2 separate regions of the Homo sapiens genome follow, and region 1 is linked to region 2. The links come from fine-mapping of genetic effects on gene expression. A gene starts in region 2. The other region holds a variant in brackets. All regions are shown on one strand. Distances are between the middles of the regions.

The links. PIP is the estimated chance that this variant, and not a neighbour inherited with it, causes the effect.
Region 1: its variant is the best candidate, but not a certain one, in a credible set for the expression of LINC02477 in pancreas (GTEx, PIP 0.78).

The regions. Positions count from the first base shown.
Region 1 is chr4:159,547,276-159,557,637 of GRCh38, reverse strand. All of the region lies in intron 1 of LOC107986324 (a long non-coding RNA gene), which reads right to left. Among named protein-coding and RNA genes, the nearest start is that of LINC02233, 230 kb to the left of the region's middle. The variant T/C (reference allele first, on the strand shown) is at 4,066.
Region 2 is chr4:160,512,588-160,522,949 of GRCh38, reverse strand. LINC02477 (long intergenic non-protein coding RNA 2477) reads right to left here and starts at 4,131. Exons shown (of 7, transcript XR_001741914.1): 1 at 3,980-4,131; 2 at 633-791.

The sequences.
Region 1 (10,362 bases), 970 kb after region 2:
TCAAGCTGTAACCCAACCACCTTAGGCACAAGTTCTCAGGGACTCAGGGACAAGGAGTGGAATTATAATGGTTAATTTTAGGTGTAAATTTGACCGGATTAAGAATGATGTGGAGAACTGGTAAAGCATCATTTCTGGGTATGTCTGTGAGGGTGTTTCCAGAGGAGATTGGCATGTGAATTGGTAGACTGAGGAAAAAAAAAAAAAAACACCCTCAACATGTGTGGGCACCAACCAATCAGCTGCAGGCACAAATAGAACAAAGGCAGAGGAAAGGCAAATTTGCTTTTCCTTCTTTCCTGCAGATAGAACACCCTTCTTCTCCTTCATCTTACATCTAAGATGTAAGCCTTCATCTTAGATGTTAGAACTCAGAAACTCCAGCCTTTGGACTCCAGGACTTAAACCAGAGGCCCCGGGTCTCAGGCTTTCAGCCTCGGATTGAGAATTACACTATCAGTTTCCTTTATTCTGAGGCTTTTGGATTTGGACTGGGACATACTACTGGTATCTCAGGGTCTCCAGCTTATAGACAAACTGTTATGGAACATCTCAGCTTCCATAATCACATGAGCTAATTACCCTAGTAAATCTCCTCTTATGTATCTACATACCTATACCTAGTTCTGTCTCTCAGGAGAACCGAGATCACCGAGAGAGATCTTTGGATACTGGAATGTCCCTGAAGGTAAGGGAATGAGTGAGAGATCAACTATCTCTACTATTACATTAAAAAAAAGACACTAGTCTTCTAAGGATCATCATTAATCTCTACTCTCACTAAATTTTTTTTTTTCCAATTTCACTCTGGAAGTCCTAAAAAGCTTCTAAGAACCATCAAGTTTAATCTCTTTTACTGCAACTTCTTTCAGTTAACTCTTCCACTCAATATTTTCTTAATTTCCCTATTCATTCTTCTTATGCCTATCAAGATTCTTTTTCTCTAAAGGAGCTCTTCTCATTAAACATCTTCCCTCTCCTTTCTCTAAGAACAGTCTTCTAGTTGCTACATTATTTTTAAACCATAAATCACTCAACCATTAGACATATGTCTTAAAATAATTTATTGATGTTTTAGTCTATGCAAGGTGCTCTTGAAAGATAAACACAGGAATGAAATAATGTTCCTGCCCAAAGAAGACAACCCAGTGGAAAGCATGATGTGATAAATGCCATTCTGTGCCATGAACGTTATACTTCGGAATCACAATATAAACATGCTGATACAATTGTCAAAATGGGCTCTTTTCTCCTTTTTAAATTTCTTGGCTATTATACTAAAGACTCAGCAAATCTCAGTTCTGAAAAGAAAACCTTTTTACAGCTCTTTTAAAATGTGAAAAGATAAAAACAATGTTTTAATATCCCTAACTGACAAACATGAATTTACTCAAAAGGAGGAAGGGAGGAAGGAAGGAAGGGGGAAAGAAGGAATGAAGGAGGGAAAGAAGGAAGGAAGAAAGGGAGGTATGGAGGAAGGAAAGAAGGAAGGAAAGAAGGGAGGAAGGAAGGAAGGGAGGAAACACTTCTAACTACCATGTCCCCAGGGATCTGTCATGTGTCACAATTGGCTTACATTCTGTAATGACTGGGGTAACCCTTTAATTGAGTGCTGACACTTATATGTCATCAAATGACATCTTCTGCAGGCACCTTTAGAGCATTTTCATATACTTCCTGTACTCATCTGATGGCCAGAATTATTAAAATAGTCTTTTTACTGAGCAGACTTCTCTGTAATTTGAACATGTCAACTCCTTACAGCAGTGGCTAAAGGCTCACATATCACTTAGCATGCTGGAGATAAGGGCAAGGGCTTTTTCATACATTTACTTTTTTCATTTTATCTATGCACTATCTTTTTACAAATTGAAGACTAGAGTATAAATTTCTGATTCACATTCCGCTTTCAAAACTGAAAGGCTGATATGATGGTGGGTGAAAATATTTCCCTCAGGACTTCAAGCCACAGAGCCATGGCATATTCCCAGATAATGAGGTCTCTAGGTAAGTATAGTAGCAGACAAAATAAATGCATCTTACATAGCATGTCTGGAAGAAATAACTGAGCCCTTGAATTTTCCAAGTGTCTTCAGTAAAGTCCTTGAAAGTTAACCCATGGAGATAATTTCTCACTTAGCCCAAAATGTTAAAATGAGTCACAATGCTTTCATGGAAGCTAGGTTCATAAGTTGTCTGGTATGGAACTTTTGCCTATGACAGGAATAGAATAAATATTTACTGAGAAATTCAGCCATTGTTTCAGCAAAGTTTACAACTTTGATATTTTTGTCAGTGGTCTGGAGCTTAGAAAGTATTTTCCCATGGATGTTGTAGAAAGAGGAGACCATAAAGAATATTACCTTAAAATAAAGATGTCTCCACTTTTAGAAAAATATAACAGGACAACTCATTTTAAATTATGTTAAAAGAATATCAACATAACCTGTTGTATTATTTTGTCAAATATTTGGCTCTGATATATACACTGTTAAATTCCAATAAGGATTTAAGACAGCTTACACAGATATCTTAAGTTTAACAAGAAATTAAAAAAAAAACACACTAGTCACATTCTGGTAAAGGTATGGGGAAATGGAACATCTCATGCATTTTAAAAGGGAATATAAAATATTCAACATTTCTGGAGGGATATTTGTACCAACATTTAAAATGTGCATACCATTTGATCCCACAGTTCCATTTCTCATCATTTATCTTAAAGAAATAAGAGTGTGGCCGGGCACGGTGGCTCACACCTGTAATCCCAGCCCTTTGGGAAGCCAAGGCGGATGGATCACGAGGTCAGGAGATCAAGACCATATTGGCCAACACGGTGAAACCCCATCTCTACTAAAAATATAAAAAATTAGCCAGGCGTGGTGGCAGGTGCCTGTAGTCCCAGCTACTCGGAAGGCTGAGGCAGGAGAATGGCGTGAACCCAGGAGGCAGAGCTTGCAGTGAGCCCAGATCAAGCCACTGCACTCCAGCCTGGGCGACAGAGTGAGACTCTGTCTCAAAAAAAACAAAAAAAAGGAAAGAAAGAAATAAGAGTGTGAGTAAACAAATATGATACATAAATACATTTGTCGAATGTTGCATAATAAATATTGAAAATGAGAATGTCTAATAAGAGATTGAGTGAATAACGATGTATCCATATAACGAAATACTATTTAGCTTTTAAAGATACCCACAATATTTTGTTGAGTTAATAAAGCAGATTATGGAATACAATATGTGGTATAGCTACGTTTATGTAGAATGCATTCATTATAGGTTTATACTTGCAGAAATGTCTTGAAAGATATCAAATGAAATTCCTAACAGCAATTATTTTTGAGGAGTGAAATGAGGGACTGTTTGTCACATATTACTTTAAAATAAAGATGTCTCCACTTTTAGAAAAATGTAACAGGGCAACTCATTTTAAATTACATTTAAAGAATATTTCATGACGTTGGAAAATGCTCACAATTTTTAAATTAGAAAAAGCAGGTTCCTAGCCAGTGTAGACAACATGACTGTGATTTTCTAAATGTAGTCATACATAGAAAAAGTTTGTGCCAAAACGTTAGCAGTGCCATTTTCACAGGGAAAATTGATCCAAGCTGCAGCTTGAGAGAATAGACTAGAAATTCACTTGCCTCCATGAAGCCCTGGTAGTGAGTTACAAGGGGTTTTCTTGTCTCACCTGTGTACAAGTCACAGCAGCAGGAATGAAATTGCTGCTGCTGCAAGAACTGCCCAGAGAACAGAGAAGAGAGTCCTGTGCAGTCTTAGCGGTATCTAGAAAGGTAGAAAACCTGGGGGAAGAGCATTTGCAGTAAGCAGAGTAGTGAGGTTAAGTTCAAGATCAGACTGACAAGAAAAGTCACACATATTGAGAGTTTACTTACATATTAGGCATTCTGCTAAGAGCTTCAGATAGAAATTATCTGTTTTATCCTCAAAACAACCTCAGGAATAGAATATTCTTATATCCATTTTTGAGATAAAGAAGTCAATACTCAAGAAGCCAATACTAGTAAGTAACTAGTGGGTGGCAAAGCCCAGAACAGAATA[T/C]ACACCTGCCTGATTCCCAAGACCACAGCTTTTTAACCATTTTATGCATGTGACAGTGTAAATCGTGTAGGCATAGCCGCAATACCTTTTTATTCTGATTTTAAGATGTTAGGCAAATCAATGCAGTCTGCTGCTTTGTGTTGGCTCAGACCAATTTCACCTGGTTGCCATCTGGACACCTACACAGGGTGCCGTGAAAAAATATAATGCACTACATAAAACTCAAGGCATCTCTCTAAAGTGCGCAGTGCAGTTTTCAACCCAGAAATCAGAGAGAGAAAATGACTGTCCCCAAGATTGCTATTCTGAAAGAGATCATTGCTGTTCATCTCACTCTGCTCACAAAGTGCTTTGCTACAGTGACACTTACACCCTTGGAGGTCAACCCACATTTCAGTGACAGCTACCAGTTCAGCTGTGTCAATTCCACCTGACTCTGCTTGCTTGCAGGGTTTCCAGAGCACACAGCTTACCAAGCCATTATTATTCTGTGCCTGTGCCCAGAGAGCTCTACAAAGGGTGCATTTTAATCACCCTGGAAGAGATAAATAAATAAACAAATAGCTCATAGGTAATATGTAATGTAATAGAGAAAAAACAACCATGACTTGTTGCCCTCACAGTCCACACCCTCATGCCTCTGGTGATTACTTGCAGAATTCTATGGCGCAGAAAAGCTGAATTTTATTTTTAAGCTTATTCCTTAAAACTGTTAATTGATGGCTCTTTCCACATCTTACCTCAAATGTCCTTGCTCATCTCCACTCTAAGGTAAGCATATTTCACTGGGAAACTGCATCTATGCATGGATAACAATGCACTCAACACCTCCTAAATTCACACTCAGTCTATACAGGAAATCCAGTCAAGTGTTTAGGAATACCAAAGCATCTTTTCCTCTCTTTACTGCACAAAAAAAGGAAAAACTTAGAGATCTAGATATTATTCTCAGGTCACAGGGTTGATCTATTTTCCGACTTGCAGCTAGATCTGTGACGTTCTAATTTTGGTAATGTTTCTGGCAAAGTTGGTTGAAATGTTTCAGGAGAAAAGGGATCTTAAAGCATAGTTGTTGCTTGATGGCAAAACCAAAGTGCTTTGAAACACTCTCAACAGTTCACAGTCTGGGTTCCATGGACCCCCAGCTTCAGAATATTCATGAATTCCTTAAACTATACATAAAATTTTGCCCAAATGTGCATTTTCTACCACTTATGAAATTTTCAAAGTGTCTGCAAACCAAAACATTACTAGGAATCACTGAGTTATTTAGAAAGTCCGGGGGGAAATATCTGTAAAACTAGTGTTATTTACACAAATGTTTATCTCAAGAAAACACACTCATACTTATTCGATTATTGTTCATTCATTCATTCACATCAGGCCAATCTCTATCCCATTATAAGCTCTACCCATTTCTACTTCTAACTTCTTTTGCTGATCTCTCTCCCCATTCATATGCTACGTTTCCTTGTAAGCTAAAGTACTTCCTTGGTAAGTCTTTCAGTGACTAGGCATTAACCCAGATTGATTTTTTTCTTTATTTCTGAATTGGTATTGTACTTAGAGTCTGGGGAAATCAGAGAGAGAGAGAGTTTTCCATAAATGTTTTACATATGGACATGTCTTCAAATATATTATGACATATACCACATACCTTAGCCTTATCTATTTTTTATTGTCAAAGGGCCAATAGTTCATCAAAGCCAGGGATAAGTCTTACTTTTTTGTGTAGCCCTCACTGTGACTAAAACTATGTTGCATGGTAATCTGTCACTATGACTATCAGTAACCCATGGAAATGTCTGTAGTTTAAGCATTCCTCACGGTAATTGAATTATCTATAAAGGAAATTTTTTCCTAAAGTTAAAATGATACATCAGAGGGAACATGAATTAGAGATGAATAAAAATATAAAATATTCCTCCCAGTCAAATTATAAACTCCATATCTAATCCATACCACTTATTAGTAAATCCTACTAGGATTTCTGGCAAATATGTGCATATTTTCTTTCCAGAGTCTGACCTGTTTTCACTATTCCACTGATAGTATCCTGGTCTTGTGATTATTGCAACAGCTTCCTGACTAGTCTTTGTATTTCTGCCTCTGCTCCCTAGAGTCTCTTTTTCATGAAGCAATAAGATTGAGTCTTTTAAAATGTGAGTCAGATCATGACTCTCCCCTTCTTCAAATTTGCCCACGACCTTCATCTCAAGAATAAAAACCAAAGTCTTTAAAATGGCTCCCAAGACCCTGGTTATTCAGCTACCCACACTCCACTTTGGTCACAACTGCTGTAATTTCAACTCTCCTCCTGGCTCACTCCATTTGAGCCAACACTTTCAATTCCTACACCAATTTCTAGCTGTTCTTTGAACCCATCAAACATATTCCTATCTCAAAGTGTTTGCTATTCCCTCCACATAGTACATTCCCCTCAGACCTCTTCTCACTACCTCCTGATCATGAGGCCTTCCCAGACCACTCTCTGAAAACAACACACACAGAGACATAGGCACAAAGTACTCCTTTTCTCCTCACCCTGCATGTCTATTTTTCTCCGCTTAACACATTTATCTCCATTTAACACATTATATATTAGTTTATTATCTTTCTTCCCCAAGCAGAGGTCAAGTGTTTTTGCCTTGTTCAATACTATAACCTCACAGTGGCTAGGACATTGTCAAATACATATAAAGGGCTCACTATATTTTTGTTGAATGATTGATTCATAGTAGTAAAGTTTCTTTGGAAGAACAATAACCATTTGAAAATACTTTTTAAAATAAAATTATTTAAAATTTATCTGCAAAAAAAAATTAGGAGGCTGCTATCATGTTAATATTTCCCCCAAAGTTCATGTGTTGGAAACTTAATCCCCAATGCAACAGTGTTGAGAGGTCCAACCTTTAAGAGATGGTTAAGTCATAAGGGCTCTGCCTTCATGAATGGATGAATATCATTATTTCAGGAGTGTGTTAGTTATCACAGAGTGGGCTTGTTATAAAAGTGAGTTTGGCCCTCTCTTGCTCTCTTGCTCTTTCACATTTTCTTGCCCTTTCACTTTCTTCCTTGGGATGAAGCAGCAGGAGACCCTCACCAGATGTGAGCCCCTCAACCTTGGACTTCATAGCCTCTAGAACTGTAAAAAATAAATGTCTTTTCTTTATAAACTTCCCAGTCTGCGGTATTCTGTTATAGCAACACAAAATGGGCTAAGACAGAGGAAAAACACCAAAATGTCCACAATATGATCAGTGATTGGTCATTTCCGAAATTTCTTTAATGGATACATTAAATAAAAACAAAGGAAGAGGGCCGGGCACGGTGGCTCACGCCTGTAATACCAACACTTTGGCAGGCCAAGGAGGGCAGATCACAAGGCCAAGAGATCGAGACCATCCTGGCTAACACGGTGAAACCCCGTCTCTACTAAAAATACAAAAACAAAATTAGCCAGGTGTGGTGGCAGGCACCTGTAGTCCCAACTACTTGGGAGGCTGAGGTGGGAGAATGGCGTGAACCCGGGAGGCGGAGCTTGCAGTGAGCCGAGATTGTGCCACTGCACTCTATCCAGCCTGGGCAACAGAGCGAGACTCTGTCTCAAAAGAAAAAAAGAAAAAAAAAAAAAAAGGAGGAGGAGGACAAAAAAAGAAGAAGAAAAGAGTTTAAGTAATAGTGAGAATGTTTGAGATCTTGTCACAAAGAAAAAATAGTAGCTGTGAGACTTAAACAGTGAGACAAATCATCTGGTAATTTTAGGACAACTAAAAATTTTCTCTGGAGACTAATCTCTTGGAGGCAGTAGGGTAATGGTATTATATATGTTATCCAACATTATCAAAAAATATCATTACCTCTAATTATTGATTGTCTGCCATTATCATCTCTCTAGAAGACACATTTGGTTCTCCTCCCCAGTCCTGTATACCTCCTTACATTTTCATTCACACTGGCTATGTCCACCAGCATGTTTTCACTTTCACCAGCCACTAACCATATATCTTTGTCAGAGGACTAACCTCAGGATCCCAATACTCTTTGCCTCGGCACACAAGGAGTGGCCTGGGAAATTATTTCCCAGCAGTGACAACTGTTGTCATCAATGACTCCATTTGAGTTGTATAAACACTCCAACTTACTGCCCATGATCATGACAGCTATGAGGTGTGGCTACACTGTCTCTTGATCTTCCTTGCAGGAATGAGTCAAAGTTCTTCATCACAGGACTCACCCTTGCTTGGCTTCTTTTATTTCTTGCCTCACTTTTCCACTCCCTTACGGTCTTCTTGAGAATACTCCATTAATCACTTTTACACAAACCCTTAACTCAGAATTTGCTACTGGAGAACGCAACCTAAGAAACTTAGTAGCAGAAATGATGCTGAAAGCTGATACTCAGTATAGGATTCAGTGTTTGGATGACTCACTGGCTAGAAGGCAACAGGAACCTCATTGTTGGTGGTAAGTAAAGTGACAAAACCCCAGGACCATTGCTTAAACTTTCATGCGTGGTGAATTGGGATGGAACACAAGAGGAAAAAGACATACTAGATTGTTTAATATCTAGTATTTGAGATATATGGTGATTATGGTAGCTATAAGATCTGTGGGATTTGTGGTCATTATTAAGTGCCATCAATGGACTGAAGAAATAAAATTCCAAGTTTACGTCAGCAAATTACCAATTCCGAACATAATGTGAAAGCTGTAAGTTCTCCATGGCAGGATTTAAAGAGAATATCTTCATCTGTAGCTGCATATAAGGTGGTCCTGAAGACCAGAACCAAAACTTAAGAGTGAGAGTAGCAAACCTGCAAAGAAGGCTGATTAATATTTTGGCAAGTTTCTTATGCTAAAGGTAGGATCCTGATAGAGAAGGAGTGGGATCCTGAGATGGAATGGAAATTCCTGGAATACACACAAAATTATTAAACTCCCAATGCCCCTAAACTCCTGAGCCTGAAAAAGTACCCCAGTTCTACCTGCAGAACATCAGCTTCCTCTTGCCTAAACACTGTGCAGAAACCTCAACTGTGATCAATGCTCTGCAAGATTACACTCACCTTTTAAGATGGTTCCACACCTCCCTTCCTATTATTCTTGCATGATCTGATTGGGAGAGTACTCCATCTGCTAAAGGAGAAAAGGAATTATTCATTGAGGGAGATCCAGGATCTGTCTCATAGGTGCTGGCAAGAACTGAAAGAACATGCCTAGAAGTGGATCCTGAAGGTGCTGAACTGGCAAAGGTGGACTATAAGCTGGATAAGGGAGAATTTTTTAATCTGGGGGCATGCTCCCATAACCCAACACCCTAGCAGGGAAATCCACAGTCAATCCTAATAAATTTTGCTTGGTTTATCCCCAGAAACTTGGAAAAAAACAATGAGTCATATTAATTGAGGTTAAAATTCCTGGGCAGAGTATTGAGAAAGAGATTAGCAGGCTCAGAGAGGTGAGCAAGATAGTTACATAAGACCTAAGAATCCACCAAATAACCATGTTCCCTGCATAGTCCTGGAAGACACTCCTTTCACTAACTGTTAGGGAATGCATTAGTGAGGAGGACACTGGCATCATCAAAAAGCTCATTTGTTACTGTTTCTAGTAGGCTGGGATTGATAGTAGGAGATGCTGTAATGGAACTGACTTTCTTGTATCAGCGGGGAAGGATCTGAAATAGCAGAGGCCAGATGGCAGCATTTAATCACAGGGAGAAGGTAGACAGAGTTACTTGCAGGCATCAAAGTTGCAGTTATCTATGGTGATATCTAATAAACCATGGTGTTTCTAAAACAAGGCACATAGGCAGACAACAAGGGCATTGCCTGATATAGATAATTGCATTTTTTTAAATGAAAAGCAGATGCACAGAAGACTGATGTCAGCTGTACTAATGGATAAATCACTTTCCATTCCCTAATTTCCAAGCTTGAGCCATTTCTCAGGTATAGTGACCATTGTTTAAAGAAAAGCCAAATCTACCTGGGAAAGGATCCTATAGTGTCACAGAAAGGATATACAATATTAACTCTCCTGGTCTTCCTCAAATAAATCTATGGACATTTACCCAAGTAACTTTACACTGAGAAACAGGGGAAACCCACATTTTTCCTATACTTTTAGTGTAGAAGTTCAAGCTAACACTGATACCAGGAGTTTACAAAGTATCACCATCTTACCCTTAAAACGGTGGAGGCCTAAGGAGACCAGATAATAAATGGAGTCCTGACTCGAGTCTATCTCACAGTGTGTCCATAGCCCTCCAGATCCAGCCAATCACATTTCCAT
Region 2 (10,362 bases):
TTTCATTGTCTGCATAATATTTTATCATATAAATTTCTTCCTTTATATTTAGAAATTTTATTATAAATTGTACTATAGTAATTGTACTTTTTAAACAAATATTTTTGATAGTTTACTATGTGATACTAAGAATAATCCTATGAGTCAGTATTATTATCAATAACTGTTTTACAGACGAAAAAACTGAGGTTCAGGAGTTGAGATTCAAATCTAAGATATTGATTTCTATGCCTGCACTCTTCATATTAATAGTATCTTATTGATATTTAATTTAGGATAACGTCAATGCATGATATTACTGATTTAAGTATATGAAGAACTGCAAGACTCTTGACTGATTTTGCCTCATATTTCATTAAAAATGCCATGCCAATTTATTCTCCCACTAAGTTTATGACAGCATGTGAGGGCTTATTTGTTTCTACTAATAGTGGAAATAAAAATTAAGAAAAAAATTAATTTTGCCAGAATTGTCATGAAATGGCCTATTATCAGGTATGCTTTCATTTCTCTGATTATTAACTTGGTTAGTCATTTTCCATATATATAATCTCTATTATATCTAGATAGATCTATATCTAGAAAATTATCTATCTGAATAGATAAAGATAAAATTCCACAAGTCTGTATACCTACTGCATCTGGAAGAGAAGTCCAGGTAAGAGCTGCTGAGCACAGAAAATGGCATCTATCTCATCATCTAGGAGGATTCCTGGCCATAGAAGAAGAAAATTAAGCCAGAGCTGCAGTGGAACTCCATCAAGAAAGTCTGGAAGTCAATGGCCCTTGACCTGGTGAAAGAGGACATAAAGTCAGTAGTGTTTGCATTACTCAAAATTTTGTTTTTCAAAAGGAGCTAGTCAACAAATGCCCCATGGACCTCCACCAGCCTCTCCATTTCAGATATCAAAAAGGACAGCAGTGTGCTCCACCAGGATTTTTTGCAGGCAACACTGGTGGCCCTGATGCTCTGAAACAACTTCCCGACATCTACCTCATGATGAGTGCCTGAAAAACAAAAGCCTGCAGTGGGAACCAGGATCCAAATTTTCATCCAGGAGAAAACTCTGCAACTCCTGGGCCACTGGAAGCCTAGCCACACTTGGGGAGCACTAATGTTGTTCTGAGGAATGTGGACATTTACATATCCCCTCTGGGGTTTAAATACCATGATGTAGAAGGGTGGGAAAATGCCTGCAAGGGAACAGAGAGGCATTGGCAAAGGTGCCCCTTCCCTGAGCCCACGGTGGCACACTTCATTTGTTGTTAAAGACTAAAACTACCTTTCTCATTGTTAAAAATGATGCATGTGCATATGTGGTTTGTTTTTATGTGAATTGCATCTATGTATTTTTGAGTATTTGCATGTCTATCGCTTGTATTGTTGGCTGGGTCTTGTATTGCAAGACTCATTATCAGCTCAAGAGAACTAATAATTCAATTTTAAGGAATTTTTACAAGCTTTTTGATCAGTAGTTGCGAATCAGCCATCTTAGGGACATTTACATGATGGAAAAGACCAAATTCTATAAATCACCAAACACTAAAGATAAGGTTGTTTTGTCTTCTTGGAGAGTCCCCATTTATTAATTTTGCTCATTATTTTACAGATGAAGAAATTGGGTTCTAAAAGTTATATTGACATCCTTACAGTCACATACATAGATAGTGGCACAGAAGCTAACCATTTAATACTATCCCTAAACCTGGGTCAGAGGTTTCAACGGGGACAACTGAGTTAGATCATCTATGAAATTCTAAGTCATTGACTCTTTTGTTCCCTCAATGTCAGTTCATACCAGTAACATTGAGCCCTTCTGATAACATGTTGCAGTAAAAGGACCCAGGGCTCCTTGCGGCCATGGTTAATTCTAGAACTGAGACAAGTAATGTAGAAATTGGGCCTGAAGTAGTACCAGAAAATAAGGACTAACGAAACAAAAAGACAAAAAAAAAAAAGACAGGAAAGGGTGTGTCAAGGGATACAGGAGCCAACTGGAAGAGCTTCCAGTGGCCAAAGCTAGAAGAGTTTCAGAAACAAAAAAGAGAACTGAATTAAAACCAAAAGTTTAAAATAAATATTCATCTTTATATAAGCAACTGATTTAATACATGAATAGAACAGAATAGATAAATATAACATCAGAATAATCCAAATAATTTATGTAGATAATACCTTCTCAAGAAGTGATGCTTAAGTGTGGGCTGCTCAATGACTTATTTTCAAAGATTATAGTATGAAAATAGGAAAAAAGTAGTGTTACAGTGAAGAAAAATGAGAACTATTACCTCGGCCATGTGATGATAGTTAATATTAATGACATGTTCATACCATGTATTCTTAATATGATGTGATGAGAATAGCACTTTGCCTCTGTAATCTTCCTCCTTCCCCCTAAAAATGTCACCAAAGTCTAACCATTAAAAAAAATCAGATAAACCCACATTGAGCAGGGTTCTACAAAACAGCTGGTCAATGCTCCTCCAACGGTCAAGGTTATCGGAAACAAGGCAAGTTTGAGAAACTGTCACAGGCTACAGAAGCCTAAGGGGTCATGAGAACTAAATGTCATATATCCTGCATGGAACTCTGAAACAGAGAAAGAACACTGAGTAAAAACTAAGAAAATCTAAATATGTAAAAGCTTTAGTTAATAACAATGTATCAATGTTATATTATTGGTTGGAATAAATATAACATATTGAGGCAAGATGTTTATAATAAGAGAAAATGGGTGAGTGGTATACAGGAAACTTCTGTACTAATTTTGTAACATTTATGTGAAACTAAATTATTGCAAAACAAGTTTATTTAAAACAAACTGTTCATGGTTTACCATCATATTAAAAGCTCTTCCTTTGACGACTACTTATAGGTTTTGCCTGTACACGGAGTCACTTCATTCTTTATTGAAAAAAAAACTGCTTTGCATCATCTTCTATAGAACTGAGTTATGGCAGAGCAACAAATAAAAAGTAGAGTGAGAATTTTTAAGATTCTGGTCAAGGGATTTAAAATCTACCCAAGTAACTAAGAATGTAATGTATCCACCTAACTGAGTATATGAAAACAAAGTTCAGTCCACAATTGTAATAGCACATTGTTTGAGTTTTTGCTTGTAAGTCACAATTAATTGTTTAAAATGTTTTGTTTTGATCTACTTTAATCTGCAATACTTGGTTTTTTTCAAGTTGACAAGCCATTTTTAAAAAATTATTTACCAATACTTATATCCTTTATCATATTCATATTTGGCTAGATAGTTGCTTATTAATAAAGACATTTAAAGACCAGTATGTAAAAAAGAGAGGAAGGAAACCAAGTCAGTTATACTGACTAGCTCAAAGCACCTCTCCATAAAAAGTTAGTGGCAAAAATATGTTGAAGCTTTTAGTGAAAAAAAAAAACAAAACCCTAGAGAATCACCATTATTCAATTTTGTGTATTTAAAATTGTTTGATCACATTAGAATAAAAAATTTGAAAGTAGATTCCTTAAAAAATTTTTCTAATATTCGTGAGATGCCAGAATTTTTAAATACATTTTCATTAATATCACTTTTGAAAGCTAGAGTCCCATCTTTGTAAGCTTATTTGTAAAATAAGAAGGAAAACACTAAAAATAAATCATGCAAATGAATATTGATAATTAATTGGAAGTTTTGCCTAAATATATGCATAGCTAAGCACGTTTTGAAATAGGTAATTATCTTAGTCCATTTGTATTGCTATCAAGGAATACCTGAGGCTGGGTAATTTATAAGGAAAAGAGGTTTATTTTGCTCACAGTTCTGCAGGCTTCACAAGAAGCATGGAACCGGTATCTGCTTCTAGTGAGAGACTCAGGCTGCTTCCACTCATGGTGGAAAGCAAAGGGAGCAAATGGTCACAGATTGCATGCAAGAGACAGAAAGCAAGAGAGAAGTGAAGGTGAGGGGCTAGCAACTAGCTATTGTTGATAAAATAGGTGAGAACTTACTAATTTCCAGGAGGACAGTAGCAAGCCATTCATGAAGTATCCACCACCATGATCCAAACACCTCCAATTAGGCCCCACCTCCAACATTGTGGATCAAATTTCAACATGCTGGTTGGAGGGTCAAATATCCAAACTATAATAGCATTCAATTGGATTCTCTGCAATTTAAAAAGAGGAGAAAAGCCAAAGTTAATTTTTCTGAAGCAGGAGATTTAGTTAAGAATTTTAATTCAACAAATGACAGTAAAAGGTATCCAGAATACTCTGTAACCAAGTTAAAAATATATACCAGATAAAATAGCATATTTATCCAATAAAATTTTCAAATTATACTTAATGAGCTGATAATTGCAAATCTTCCTTAACCTAAAAATTCAAAAGGGATTCATTTATACTGTGATCGGCATTGCTCAGAATGAATCTAGTTATCTCTGTTTTTAAATGAAGTTCTCTTAAATGCATGAAGTAGGAAATGGGACATAACTATGCCACAATTATTGCAGTTTTAAAATATAAAAGGAAATAAAAGAATGTCAGTTTCAGTTCCATCACTTCTCCAGGAATGACAAGGTGCAATAAGTCAATAGAAATAGGATATGATTAATTGAATTAATAGTGTTCAGTGAAAATGGAGTTCAAAAAGGTTGGCAACTTAAAGGAGTTTAATTTTTAGAGTTGAGTCATATGTCACAAGATAGAGAAAGGGCGTTTTTGTGACACAGAAAGATATCCTATAATAGCTTAAAAGAATTTAGGAAGGGAATTTTTATTATACGTTAGTGCAATATGCCAGGATGGTTAGACCTTGCTTTTTACCTTTTGCAAACAAGTATGCCAGTTAGAATATTGACACAAGGGCTCATGATTCAAAAATTGTTATTCAATATTATATGTTCTAGAGTATGCATAAAATGTTTTGGTTATATTATATATTCAATCATATCTAGACAGTTTAATTACTCATAACTATTTCTTATTATAGTGATTATTAAATGTTTGTTTGGTTTAATAGCCTCTTTAAAAGCAATGGCAATAAACTGATTCATTTCTATTTTATTTTTTTGTAGAGACAGGGTCTCAATATGTTGTCCAGGCTGGTCTCCAATTCTTAGGCTCAAGTGATCCTTCCACCTCAGCCTCCCAAAGTGCTGAGATCACAGATGTGACCCATAGTGTTTGGCCTTAAATTCACTCATTTCTCTTTTTTTGAGACAGAGTCTCGCTCAGTCACCCAGGCTGGAGTGCAGTGGCGAGATCTCGGCTCACTGCAAGCTCCGCCTCCCAGGTTCATGCCATTCTCTTGCCGGGACTACAGGTGCCCGACACCACACCCGGCTAATTTTTTGTATTTTTAGTAGACCCGGAGTTTCATTGTGTTAGCCAGGATGGTTTCGATCTCCTGACTTTGTGATCCGCCCACCTCGGCCTCCCAAAGTGCTGGGATTACAGGCGTGAGCCACCGCACCTAGCCAAATTCATTCATTTCTATTAATAAAATTGAGAACTATTTGGTTAGTGAAAGAATATCATAGGACAGTCTCATAAAATAAATATATTTTCTATATTTGATGTTAAACCTAAAAAAGGAGTCCAGGTTTCACAGTTGCATCTAAATAGAAAAGTATCAAACATTAATATAGTCCTCTGTCTTTGGAAGAAATATCAAATAAAATATAAAATATAAATAAAATATAAAAATCTCTGTTCATTAAGTTTCTCAGACAGTTCCAATCTGAGCTGATAATATTGAAGCTAAAGTTTAAAACAATTAGTAGAATTAGTAAGGGTCCGCTTTTGAGATAGTGAAGTGCTGAATGCCGCATTTTATACAAGATCTACTGTGTTCGAAGCCCCTCAGATTGGAAGTGTATGATATCAGAAATATTTCAGTAGTAGAGGTCACCTATATGAATTAAATTAAATTATTCTTTGATTCTGTTATTTTTAAGAAACATAAATACCAAAATATGTGGATTGAACCATCCATCCTTTCAACTACATAGAATAATATTGTCAACTAGCAGAATTTCAGAGCATCTTTAAGGAGTCCTAGCAACCGGTGGTCTAATTTCACAAATGAAATATTTGGGGCTTACAGAAGTCAGACTTGTGTCATGGTTATCTCCACAGGGCATAAGGTAAATTCTTGCAAATTTGTGCTTATATACAATGCTATATATATTGTCTTTCTAACTCCATTCACTACCAGTTACTTGGGAAACCCAGATGTGCAAGCAAGGGTTACATTGTCCCCATTAGAGCGTCAACTGATTGACCACATTCTCCCTGTTGAGAGAATCACACATACGCCAGGACCCTAATGCTTCTGTTACATATATTTACAGGAAAGTGAATTAATTAATTTCTAACTTGGAAAATATCTTTCTTACATCAGATTATCTGACATCTGCCTTCTTTTAATTATCTTAGTTTATCTTTACCTTTCTTTCTCTTTTGTTTCAGTCTTTAATTCAATGTACATATTATCCCAAAACAACTCTGATAGTGAAATAAAAGTTTTTATAATGGAAAGAAAAACAATGTATTAGGAAATATATTTTGATGTCCAAAATTAACTTTAATAAACTCTAAAGTTATTTCAAATACAAAAGTTCTATACCTCTTCTTCGTGCAAAAACTTAACATGATTGTCTCTGTCACCACAACTGACAATACATAAGTCAATAAATAAATAAATACTTGATATATTTGAGTACATGTTGGACATCCTTATTTTTAATAATTTGTTTTCCATTAAGAAAAGTGAGGTATCAGGATTATTTAGAATATATGAAATTAGTTAATTTAGTGATCATAGAGAAGAGTGTCTAGGAAGTCTTAAAAAAGAACCGAAAAAAACAGGTTAAGAGACTCCACACTTTCAGAATGTTTTAGAATGTAGAATTCTTGCTACAGCTGTGGAGAGATTGCCAAGAGAATGATCAGTGACCAGCAAGGTGGAGCCTCATTCTTAGAAAATATTAAACTGGAGATGGTATATCACAGTGGTTCAGGACATGTGTTCTGGAAATACACACTGGTTATATTAGACACCCAGTTTTGCCACTTACTGCTATCATATTTGATGGTTTCTTTAATATTTCATGTTTCAGTTTACTTTCCTGTAAAATGAGGTAATTAGAGTACTCAGTAAAGTTGATGTAAAACATAAGATTTAATACATGCAATATACTAAAAGCAGTGCTTAGCACATCACAAATCTTCAAAAGAGTTACTTATTATAATTTTTCATCACTTTTTGCCAATTATCCTGCTGACAACTTTTTATGCTACTGGTATTATAATGAAAGCACAAGCAAATAAATAGTAATTAGAAGCCAGGCGCAATGGCTCACGCCTGTAATCCCAGCATCTTGGGAGGCCACGGTGGGCGGATCATGAGGTCAAGAGATCAAGACCATCCTGGCCAACATGATGAAAATCTGTCACTACTAAAAATACAAAAATTAGCTGGGCATGGTAGTGCACGCCTGTAGTCCCAGCTACTCGGGAGGCTGAGGCAGGAGAATAGCTTGAACTCTGGAGGCGGAGGTTGCAGTGAGCCAAGATCTCCCCGCTGCACTCCTGCCTGGCGAAATAGCGAGACTCCGTCTCAAAAAAAAGAAAAAAAAAAGTATTTCGAGGAAAAGTAACTCTTAGAGAAAGTACTCTACCTTGCTAAATTGAAAGGATTCTAAACAAAAAGTACATTTTCACAACTTTTGCAACTAAACTTATAGATGAAAAATAGATTGCCTCAATTAGATGCAACAGAATAAGGCTTGAAAGGATATAAGGTACAGCATGGTAAATACTGTACTGTCTGCTTGAAATTTACTGAGAGTAAACCGTAAATATATACAATTCTTATTTGTCAATTATACATCAATAAAGTTGGAGGCGGGGGTGAAGCAGAATGGAGGCAGAGCTCATTGCATGTAAAAATGTGAAATAGATATATCTAGATTCCGTCTTCTAGTGACTTAGCTTTGTGGTTGTCAGAGGCAGTATTAAAAGTGAGAGCCTCACAAATAGCAGTTGTGGCTGCAGTACTTAATGACTTTTCTGTTACAGCAACATGGGTATGAAATTAAGGCCTATTCCTAATTGCTTGTATTAAATTATATTCTGTATAACTAGATCAGTTTTGTATTTTCTGTATTCATCTTCAATGATTCTCTACTTGCAACCATCATTCACCATAGCAAGTAACTGCTACAGGCAGAAGCAGCATGGCTACTGGTGTGAATAGCACGGTCAGCACTGTAATCAAAATGATTTGAACTGCAGGTTCTTTGGTGGGGGCCAAGTGATCATGATGCCCCTAGGACTAAAATAGATGAACAATCTAATAAAGTCCTGTTAGACTGGCCATAAAAAATTTAAAGAAAATAAATTTCAAAACAAAACAAAAAACCTCCAGGTCTGGAGAAGAGTGACCTGACTGAAGTCACTAAAATGAAGAATCAGGATTCTTCACCCAATTTCTAAACCTGAGTCAGTTTATAGACACAAAGCTCCTTAAAGGAAAAACAGCATTCCTATGAGGAAGAACATTCTGACGTTACCACAGGTGTGCCTGTGTGGCTTGTGGCCACCTACACATGTAAACATGCAGAGAAGAGGCAGCAGTCTGAAGAGAATGTGGTTCATGGACTTGGCTGCTAGGAATCTCTTGGGTCGTGGAAAGTCACCGTGGTTTGGCAGAAGAGGAATGAAACTTTGGTTCAAGTATGTCTCATAAAATGATATTAAGAGTACATTTCTGATTCTACTCTGTGTTCATTTCCTTCACTTTTCACACACAAATGTGAATTAACCATAGTTAGAACCTGGCAGAATATCTACACTGGCTTCTTGTAATATGAGAGCCACAGTGCAATCCCTTTAATTCTTTACTAAAATAATATAAGAAACATGCAACACCACATCTGTTCTGGATTTCAGACATTTATACCAATATGGGTTGAGTGTCCTTTATCCAAAAATAGACTTAGAAGTGTTTTGGATTTCAGAATTTTGTATGGATTTGGGAATATTTGCTTGTATATAATGAGATATCTTGGAGATAGGACCTAAGTCTAAACCCAAAATTCAGGTTTCACATATACATTATAAGCATAGCCCAAACGTAATTTTATATAATATTTTAATAATTTTGTGCATAAAATAAATAAGTTTTGACTGCATGTTGACTGTGATGTGGCACATGAGGTCAGGTGTAAAATTCCCCATTTGTGGTATCATGTCATGTTGGTGTTCAAAAACCTTTGGGTTTTGGAACATTTTGGATTTTGGATTTTCAGATTAGAGGTATCTCGATTTGTATCAAGAAATTAAAATATTGAGGACTGGTGGTTCCTGTCTCTTCCCTGATTTTTTAGTTTACTTATTGTATGTAAAAAGCAAATGAACCTTTAAGGATATAAGTGGATTATCATAATCATAACTGATATTAACTGTAATTGAAGACAGTTTCCTGATACAGTCTCTTTACTTGCCCATATCATTACAGTTCCTGTCATCTTTTACAAAGCTTTCAAGCTAATCATATATTTACTATTCCAGGAACCCACAATACTACAAATAATTTGTTTTCATCCAGTGATAGCAAGAATGGTTCTTACTATTTTACTTTGTTATCTGTCATAATCTAGTCTACAGGATCATTGAGCGCCTCCCATCTTGGAACCATCATCCAGATTCATCATACTTATTGTATATCCCACTAATTACCCTGGAAAACCAGAACTGGTACTGTAGATAACCTGAACATACATATATGTACCAAGTGATAGGAGAAATAAAACACAAAATTTGGGGTACAGTGTAGCTTCTGGAATGCAGTGGTCTAGACATACAAAAATCCTGCCTTTAAACTAAAATTTCAGTGCTGCACTGTTGCACTCTCTCTAACCCCAAAAAGGAGCCAATCTTTTTGGGTTTTAGAGGTAATAGATATCATATGTTGGCAATGTATCAAGTAGTTGTCAAGCCCTGCCCCTTGAGCCATATGATCCAGAAGATCCAGATTCTCTTCTTCTATTTTACTGTTATTTTATATAATACGTATGCATTTTTTCCAATTTTTATTTTAGATCTAGGTGGCACATGTGCAGGTTTGTTATCTGGGTATATTGTGTGATGCTGAAGTTTGATTATAAAGGATCCCATCACCCAGGTACTGAACATAGTATCCAACAGTTAGTTTCTCAATCTTTGCCTTCCTCCCTCCCTCCCGCTTCAAGTAGTCTCCAGTTTCTACTGCTGCCACCTTTATGTCCATGAGTAACAAATAACATGCATATTTATACAAACCTTAAAGTTCAACCTTTAGCTTAGGACACCAATGTAGTATTGAGTTAGAAGAGGAATGGATATTG